Regions from separate parts of the Homo sapiens genome. Here region 1 is linked to region 2. The links come from fine-mapping of genetic effects on gene expression. Tissue or cell type: whole blood. Region 2 holds a variant in brackets; the other region holds the start of a gene. All regions are shown on one strand. Distances are from middle to middle.

Region 1 (4,136 bases), 100 kb before region 2:
TCCATCTCTACTAAAAATACAAAAATTAGCTGAGCGTGGTGGCACGCACCTGTCATCCCAGTTACTCAGGAGGCTGAGGCGTGAGAATGGCTTGAGCCTGGGAGACAGAGGTTGCAGTGAGCTGAGATTGCATCATTGCACTCTAGCCTGGGTGACAGAGTGAAATGGAGGGAGGAAAAAAAAAAAAAAGGAAGGTCCCGTCCAGGGAGCCAGCCTAGGATGGGGAAGGCTCACCAGAAGTGGATGCAAAGAGTGCTGGAGATGAGCTCATTCTATTTGCCTAGGAAAGAAAAACGTCCAGAAACCTGGCCTTCCTCCTCTTGGCCGAGGCCCTCCAGGAAAGCCAGGCAGACCCTGCTCCTGCTCTGACCCCCTGGAGAAGTGATATGTAGAAAAGAGGAGATGGGCTTTGGCCCAGAGGACAGCAGCGTTAGGCTAGTGAGCAGTTCCCAGTCGGTTCAAGGTTGCTAGGCTCAGCGAACTGCAAGTCCCTGTTCGACAAGTTTCTTCCTAAAGGTCCCCAGTTCCTCATGATTCTTCTGAGGGTCTCATCCACCCTCCCAGGGCCTGCAGTCAGCTAGCCACCCCACTGCCCCATGCCTGCAGTGAACACATTTACCACAACCTGGAAATGGCTGGTGACAGAAAAGTCCTCACGGCCACAACACTCTCTGCGGTGGGAATTCAGGTGCCTTGCCTGATGGTGACAAAGCTGGTTTTGCATAAACAGCTCTCTGAATCACACCCAAATGTGGCTTCTGACTTGAGTGGACCCCCATGAAGAGCTGCAGAGGGGGCTGGGAAAAGACAAGAGAATGGAGAAAATGAGGAGAAAGGAAACTACAGAGTGAGATAGAGAACAGATCTGACAGGTGTGACCACAGCAGTGTGACATTTATGAACAGTGTGGAAACAACGGCAAAGCCCCTAAATTAAAAACTTCCTGGGGAAATAAGCCACTCCACATATCGGTTGCTGAGGAAAGAGTGGAGGAGGCTGTTGACCCGTGTGTGTCCCCATGACTCAAAGAGGGAAAAGTCTAGCTGTTTCCAATATCCCGAAATCAGTCTTGCTGGGAGAACTGGGAAAATAAAAAAGAGATGACCCCCGTAGGAAGCTACCTTTAATCCCAAGTGCCCAAGGCTAGGAGAGAAGATGCTCCAGGCGATCCAGGACACCAGTGACTGACACAGCCAGAGGTGGGAAAGGGGAGGATAAAGATGGCACAAAAGTGAGGAGTGAGCAAGGGTCTGAGAGGGAAGGCCATGTGGGCAGTAGGTGGCACCCACATCAGAGACTGACATGAGGATTAAAGGAGAGCATAGGTGATCGGTCAGAGTGTGACAGAAGAGAGGCAGCTCTACACCCCTTGCTTGCAATTCTGAGCATTCTGTAGCAAACTCGTTTGGCCATCAAACCAGACCTCAATTGAGACAAGGCTATTTAAGCTTCCTCCCAGTTGGTGTAAATATTCAATAGTTTTGCTGCAGAAATGTTGCGTTTGATTATGAGACTACCCCAACTCCCCAAGGGTGTTTTGTGGTGCTGGTTTCTGTATAAACCTGAAAAATTCTGAATTCCAAAACTTATCTGACCCCCAAAGTTTCAGATAAGAGCTTGTGGACCTGTGCTCAATTCTGGTTCTCCTTCCTTCTTTCAACTGTTGTCTGTGAAAGGAGGGATGCAGGTATGGGAGACAGGAGTCCTGCGAATTCGTCTGTAAACTGTGGACGGGGGGGTGGGTGGGGGGGGGTAACGTGGGCACCTTTGTGCACAAGTGCATGAATAGGAGGGGTGAGCAACTGTGTGTCCATCACCTTTTTGTCAAAGAAGCAGGAGTCAGTGGGCTACGTGCTTCATGAGCAGGAGAGGCGGAAACTAAGGAAGGCTCATGTGTTGGAGGAAGCATGTTTGAAGAGCAGCAGGTCTCACAGAGTTTGCTCTTTAATACTCTCCCCAGCACACGGAAGGGGAAGGGGGTGGAGGTTGCTGCTATGAGAGAGAAAAAAAAAACAGCCACAATAGAGATTCTGCCTTCAAAGGTTGGCTTGCCACCTGAAGCAGCCACTGCCCAGGGGGTGCAAAGAAGAGACAGCAGCGCCCAGCTTGGAGGTGCTAACTCCAGAGGCCAGCATCAGCAACTGGGCACAGAAAGGAGCCGCCTGGGCAGGGACCATGGCACGGCCACATCCCTGGTGGCTGTGCGTTCTGGGGACCCTGGTGGGGCTCTCAGCTACTCCAGCCCCCAAGAGCTGCCCAGAGAGGCACTACTGGGCTCAGGGAAAGCTGTGCTGCCAGATGTGTGAGCCAGGTAAGAGGGGGCCTTGGTAAGGGCCAGGTGAGTGGCGAAAGAGAGAGGACTGGGGTTAATACAGTAAATAGGCGCAGGGTGAGACTGAGCTCAAGCAAGGAGGGAAATCCTGCAGCTGTGGGGAGGCACCACCTTGAAGAGGGCAGAGAACCAGCCCTTCTCAGGCCTTGATCCCTTACCCTCTCCTCCCAGGAACATTCCTCGTGAAGGACTGTGACCAGCATAGAAAGGCTGCTCAGTGTGATCCTTGCATACCGGGGGTCTCCTTCTCTCCTGACCACCACACCCGGCCCCACTGTGAGAGCTGTCGGCACTGTAACTCTGGTGAGGTGGGCAAGGGTGTGTAGGTGGGGACGATGGACAAGCATCTGGGGGAGCAAGGCTGGTGACGGGTTTGGGGGTGCAAGGAGGATGACGGGGCCAAAGCTTTGGCCTTCTTCAAGGCTCACAGCAAGTGGAGCCAATGCTGGGAAATGCGGCACCCTAGGTGGGGCATGAATTAACGTGGGCAGACATCTAGTATTCCAGGAAAGGGATAAATAGAATTTGAGGGATTGGTGAGAACGGGTCTATGGATAGGATCAAGACAATAAAATGAGAGAAGTGGCTCTATGACCCCAGATTTCGGGCAAGCAACCCCCAACCAATAAACTGACTGTGTTCCCAGAGTGCACATGTGCAGGTTGGCCATTGGGAATTTGGAATACATCTTTCTAAGGAAATAACAAAGCAACCCAATAGGTAACAACCTTTTTTTGCACAAAAGCCAATTTGAGAAAATGAGTATGTATGTAGCCTGTGTTTTTATTTTATAGTTCCAAAAAAAAAGGTTTTTTTTAAACTAAGAAGTATAATATCTGCAGTTGTGCTTATGAATGCTGTTATTATTTCTCCATCTTCGCTACAATTTCAGAAACTACGGCCAGTATACACTAGAATAGCAGGCTTTAAAGTGGCCCCTTTGAACAAATGTTCTCTAGCAAGACACTTTTTAGAACCAGGTAACTGTAACTATTAAACTACCTACTTGCAAAACGTGTTTGGTGTCACTGGGTCTCTTGGTACTGGGTTTTGTTTTGTTTAGTTTAGAGACAAGGTCTAGCTCTGTCACCCAGGCTGGAGTGCAGTGGTGCAATCATAGCTCCCCACAGCCTTGAACTCCTGGGCTCAAGCAATCTTCTAGTCTCAGCCTCTGAAAGTGCCAGGATTACAGGTGTGAGCTGTAGTGCCTGGTCCCGTAAAAACAAAAACAAAAACCAACACCAGATGTGGTGGCTCATGCCTATAATCCCAGCACTTGGGAGGCCAAGGCAGAAGGGTATTTGCATATTTTGTAGAGACTTGAGCCCAGGAGCTTGAGACCAGCTGGGCAACATAGTGAGACCTTGTCTCTAAAAAAATTGGCTGGTCATGGTAGTGCACCTGCAGTCCCAGCTACTTGGGAGGCTGAGATGGGAAGATCACTTGAGCCCAAGAGGTCCCCAAGAGGTCCAGGCTGCTCACATCACTGCACTCCAGCCTGGGTAACAGAGCAAAACCCTTTTTCACACACACACACACACACACACAAAAAGCCAGAGCAGTGGCTCACACTTGTAATCCCAGCACTTTAGGAGGCCAAGGCAGGCGGATCCCTTGAGCCCAGGAGTTTAAGAACACCCTGGGCAACATGGCAAAACCCTGTCTCTACTAAAAATACAAAAAGTTAGCCAGGCGTGGTGGCACGAACCTGTAGTCCCAGCTACTCAGAAGGCTGAAGTGAGAAGATCACTTGAGTCCAGGAAGTGGAGGCTGCAGTGAGCCGTGACTGTACCACTGCACTCCA
Region 2 (4,266 bases):
CTACTAAAAATACAAAATTAGCCAGGCGTGGTGGCACATGCCCGTAATCCCAGCTACTTGGGAGGCTGAGGCAGGAGAATTGCTTGAGCCCGGGAGGCGGAGGCTGCAGTGAGCCAAGATTGCGCCATTGCACTCCAGCCTGGGCAACAAGAGCAAAACTCTGTCTCTAAAAATAATAATAATAATTTTTAAAAATAGTAATAAAGTACACAATAAATGTAATGTTTGAATCATCTCAAAATCATTTCCCCCGGGTCAGTGGAAAAACTGTCTTCCACAAACCAGTCCCTGGTACCAAAAAGGTTGGGGACTGCTGCCTAAAGTCATTGCACTGGGAGAGAGGAGGAGTCAGATGATTTGAAAATACTTTTTTTTTTTTTTTTCCTGAGATGGAATCTTGCTCTGTCACCCAGGCTGTGGTGCAGTGGCACAATCTCAGCTCACTGCAGCCTCCACCTCCCAGATTCCAGCAATTCTCCTGCCTCAGCCTCCCAAGTAGCTGGGATTACAGGTGCCCACCACAATGCCTGGCTACTTTTTGTATTTTTAGTAGAGACGGGGTTTCACATGTTGGTGGCCAGGCTGGTCTCACACTCCTGACCTCAAGTGATCTGCCCGCGTTGGCCTCCCAAAGTGCTGGGATTACAGGCGAGAGCCACCACGCCCAGCCAAAAATAGCTTAAAAGGCATGATTCCATTTAAGATATTATTTTCGTTCTTTCAGATCATGTTTTACACTGGGCACTTGAGGTCCAGGGAAGACTAGGGAGAGATGGCAGCCCGAGATCTCTTCTCACGAAGATGGCCGCACAAAGGCCCCTAGTTGGTTGAAGGCACAGTGAAAACACAAACCTTAAATCCACCATCCAAAAGAGGGAGACAAGAATCAGGTCAGGCAGGAGGAGGAAACAGTGAGCCGCGGTAGACGGGAGGGTGGGGAGTACTGGTTTCCCTTGCCATGTCTTTAGCTAGCAGCACAAATCCAGGAAACCTCATCTACCTGGCCAAGAAAACCAGGTTTGATGCAGGAGCAGGACAGTTTGATGTGTGTTGGGAGAATGAGTATATAGGAAAATAATTTCTCGACTTCCTTCTCAAACACCTCCAATGTGACAGCAATAAGAATAAAGTCAAGGCCGGGCGCGGTGGCTCACGCCTGTAATCCCAGCACTTTGGAAGGCCGAGGCGGGTGGATCACGAGGTCAGGAGATCGAGACCATCCTGGCTAACATGGTGAAACCCCGTCTCTACTAAAAAATACAAAAAATTAGCCGGGCGTAGTGGCAGGCGCCTGTAGTCCCAGCTACTCTGGAGGCTGAGGCAGGAGAATGGCGTGAACCTGGGAGGTGGAGCTTGCAGTGAGCTGAGATCGCGCCACTGCACTCCAGCCTGGGCGACACAGCGAGACTACGTCTCAAAAAAATAAATAAATAAATAAATAAATGAAAAGAATAAAGTCACTCTCTCCTTATCCACTGGTTTCACTTTCCACGGCTTCAGGTACCCAAGGTGAACCTTGATCTGAAAATATTAAATGAAATATTCCAGAAATAAACAATTCCTAAGTTTTAAATTGCACGCTGTTCTGAGTGGCCTGATAAAATCTCACTCTCTCTGCCGGGCGCGGTGGCTCACGCCTATAATCCCAGCACTTTGGGAGGCCGAGGTGGGCGGATCATGAGGTCAGGAGATCGAGATCATCCTGGCTAACACGGTGAAACCCCATCTCTACTAAAAAATACAAAAGAAATTAGCCGGGCGTGATGGCGGGCGCCTGTAGTCCCAGCTACTCAGGAGGCTGAGGCAGGAGAATGGCGTGAACCCAGGAGGTGGAGCTTGCAGTGAGCCGAGTTCAAGCCACTGCACTCCAGCCTGGGTGACACAGCGAGACTCCGTCTC[G/GAA]GAAAAAAAAAAAAAAACCTCACTCTATCCAGACCAGGACATGAACCCTCCCTCTGTCCCAAGGATCCACACTGTCTATACTGCCTGCCCATTAGTTACTTAGGAGCCATCTCAGTGATGAGATTGACTGTCGTGGTATGGCAGTGCCCGTGTTCAAGGAACCCTTATTTTTACTTCATAATGGCCCCAAAGCACAAGAGTAGTGATGCTGGCAATTTGGATATGTGAAAGAGAAGCCAAAATATGCTCCCTTTAAGTGAAAAGGTAAAAGTTTTCAACTTAATAAGAAAAAGAATCCGATGCTGAGGTTGGTAAGCTCTACAGTAAGAATGAATCTTCTATCCGTGAAATTGTAAAGAAGGAAAAAGAAATTTGTGCCAGTTTTGCTGTCACACCTCGAACTGCAAAAGGTACCGCCACAGCGCACGCTAAGTGCTTAGTTAAGATAGAAAAGGCATTGAATGTGTGGGTGGGAGACATGAACAGAAACACGTTCCAGTTGACAGCAACTGGACCCAAGCTATCAGGAGGTCAGTGCTATCTTTGGTTTCAGGCATCCACTGTGGGTCTTGGAACACATGCCCTGAAGATAAGGGGGGACTACGTATGAATCTCCCATGTGGGCCTGAAGAGAGGCTGAGACGCAGAGAAGGCTCCATGCCTCTCCCAAAGTCAGAGCGTCGGGAAAGGACCACCTCACCAGGCCAGGAGAGCTCACGGGGGTCCCGTCCATCCCTCCTCCCACAGCAACAGCAACCTCCATTCTGTGGTTCCACAAATCCTTCTTCCTTTGTTTGTATTTTTGAGACGGAGTCTTGCTCTGTCGCCCAGGCTGGAGTGCAGTGGTGCGATCTCGGCTCACTGCAAGCTCCGCCTCCCGGGTTCACGCCATTCTCCTGCCTCAGCCTCCCGAGTAGCTGGGACTACAGGTGCCTGCCACCACGGCCAGCTAATTTTTTTTTTTTGTATTTTTCGTAGAGACGGGGTTTCACCGTGTTAGCCAGGATGGTCTCGATCTCCTGACCTCGTGATCTTCCCGCCTCGGCCTCCCAAAGTGCTGGGATTACAGGCGTGAGCCACCGCGCCCGGCCTCCACAAATCCTTCTTGCAGCTCCTAAAGCCTAGAGTTTGAGCTAAAGCACCAGCTCCACTTGCCTCTAGGTACCTCTAGAAGGTACTTCAAGGCTTGGGAAAAAGCATGGAGATTTCTCTGTTATCTCAAAGGCTGAGTGGAAGAAACAGGAAAGTCCCAGTCCATCTCTGAGTGCCATGGCACTGATAGTGTTAATAATAATAAAACAGTCCCCACTATGCTACACTCGCTATGAGCCAGACACTGCCCTAAGCTCTATATATGCATTATTTCATCTGATCTTCTAAACAACCCTATAGGTGAGGTATTATTAAATTCCTCATTTTACAAATAAAAAGGCCCGGCACAGTGGCTCATGCCTGTAATCCCAACACTTTGTGGGGCCGAGTTAGGAGGACTGCTTGAATCCAGAAGTTTGAGGGCAGCCTGGAAAACATAGTGACACCCTGTTCTCTGTAAAAAAAATCAAAAAATTAGCCGGGCGTGGTAGCACACGCCTGTGGTCCCAGCTACTTGGGAGGCTGAGGTAGGAGGATTGCTTGGATCCAGAAGATCACGGCTGCAGTGGGCCTGGAGTGACAGAGCAAGACCCTGTCTCAAAAAAAGAAAGAAAGAAAGAAAGAAAGAAAAAGAAACAGGTGTAGGGCTGGACACATGGCTCATGTCTCTAATTCTAGTACTTTGGGAGGCCGAGGCAGGAGGATCACTTAAGCCCAAGAGTTTAAGACCTGCCTGGGAAACACAGGGAGACACCATCTCTACAAAAAAATACAAATAAAAATTAGCTGGGTATGGTGGCACACACCTGTGGGCCCAGCTACTCAGAAGGCTGGGGTGGGAGGATCACTCCAGCCTAGGCAACAGAGTGAAACAGAGTGAGACCTTGTCTCAAAAAAGAAAGGACAGAAAGACAAGGGAGAGAGGGAGGGAGGGATAGAGGGGGAGGGGAAGAGAGAGAGAGAGAGAAAGGAAGGAAGGAAGGAAGGAAAGAAAGGAAAGGAAAGGAAAGGAAAGGAGGGGCTCAGAGGGAACAAGTAACTTATTACAAGTTCAGGGTGGTTGTAAGTAACAGAGCTGAGATTTGAACCGATATCTGTCTGTTTCCAGAGCCTGAGGTCTTCAGAGCCCACCAGGAGGACTATAGCTGAGAGATCACTCCTCCTCCCAAGACCTTGGTCTCTAGGGTCCTGCAGCAGGGATGAGGCCACTGCGCCTGCAGCCCCACTCAAAACCCTCTGGGACACCACGCCCCTGGCTTCCGCTCCTGCCCTTAC

What was found. PIP is the estimated chance that this variant, and not a neighbour inherited with it, causes the effect.
Region 1: it holds the start of CD27, and the variant in region 2 is the best candidate, but not a certain one, in a credible set for the expression of CD27 in whole blood (INTERVAL, PIP 0.72).

What each region holds. Positions count from the first base shown.
Region 1 is chr12:6,442,921-6,447,056 of GRCh38, forward strand. It overlaps CD27 (CD27 molecule), which reads left to right and starts at 2,035. Exons shown (of 6, transcript NM_001242.5): 1 at 2,035-2,311; 2 at 2,504-2,635. The coding sequence starts at 2,176. It overlaps CD27-AS1 (CD27 antisense RNA 1), which reads right to left. Exons shown (of 6, transcript NR_015382.2): 4 at 4,041-4,136; 5 at 626-797. RefSeq lists a silencer at 57-136 and enhancers at 1,127-1,196, 1,217-1,266, 2,171-2,672, 2,217-2,276, 2,307-2,486 and 1 more.
Region 2 is chr12:6,543,799-6,548,064 of GRCh38, forward strand. All of the region lies in intron 8 of IFFO1 (intermediate filament family orphan 1), which reads right to left. Among named protein-coding and RNA genes, the nearest start is that of IFFO1, 10 kb to the right of the region's middle. The variant G/GAA (reference allele first, on the strand shown) is at 1,900.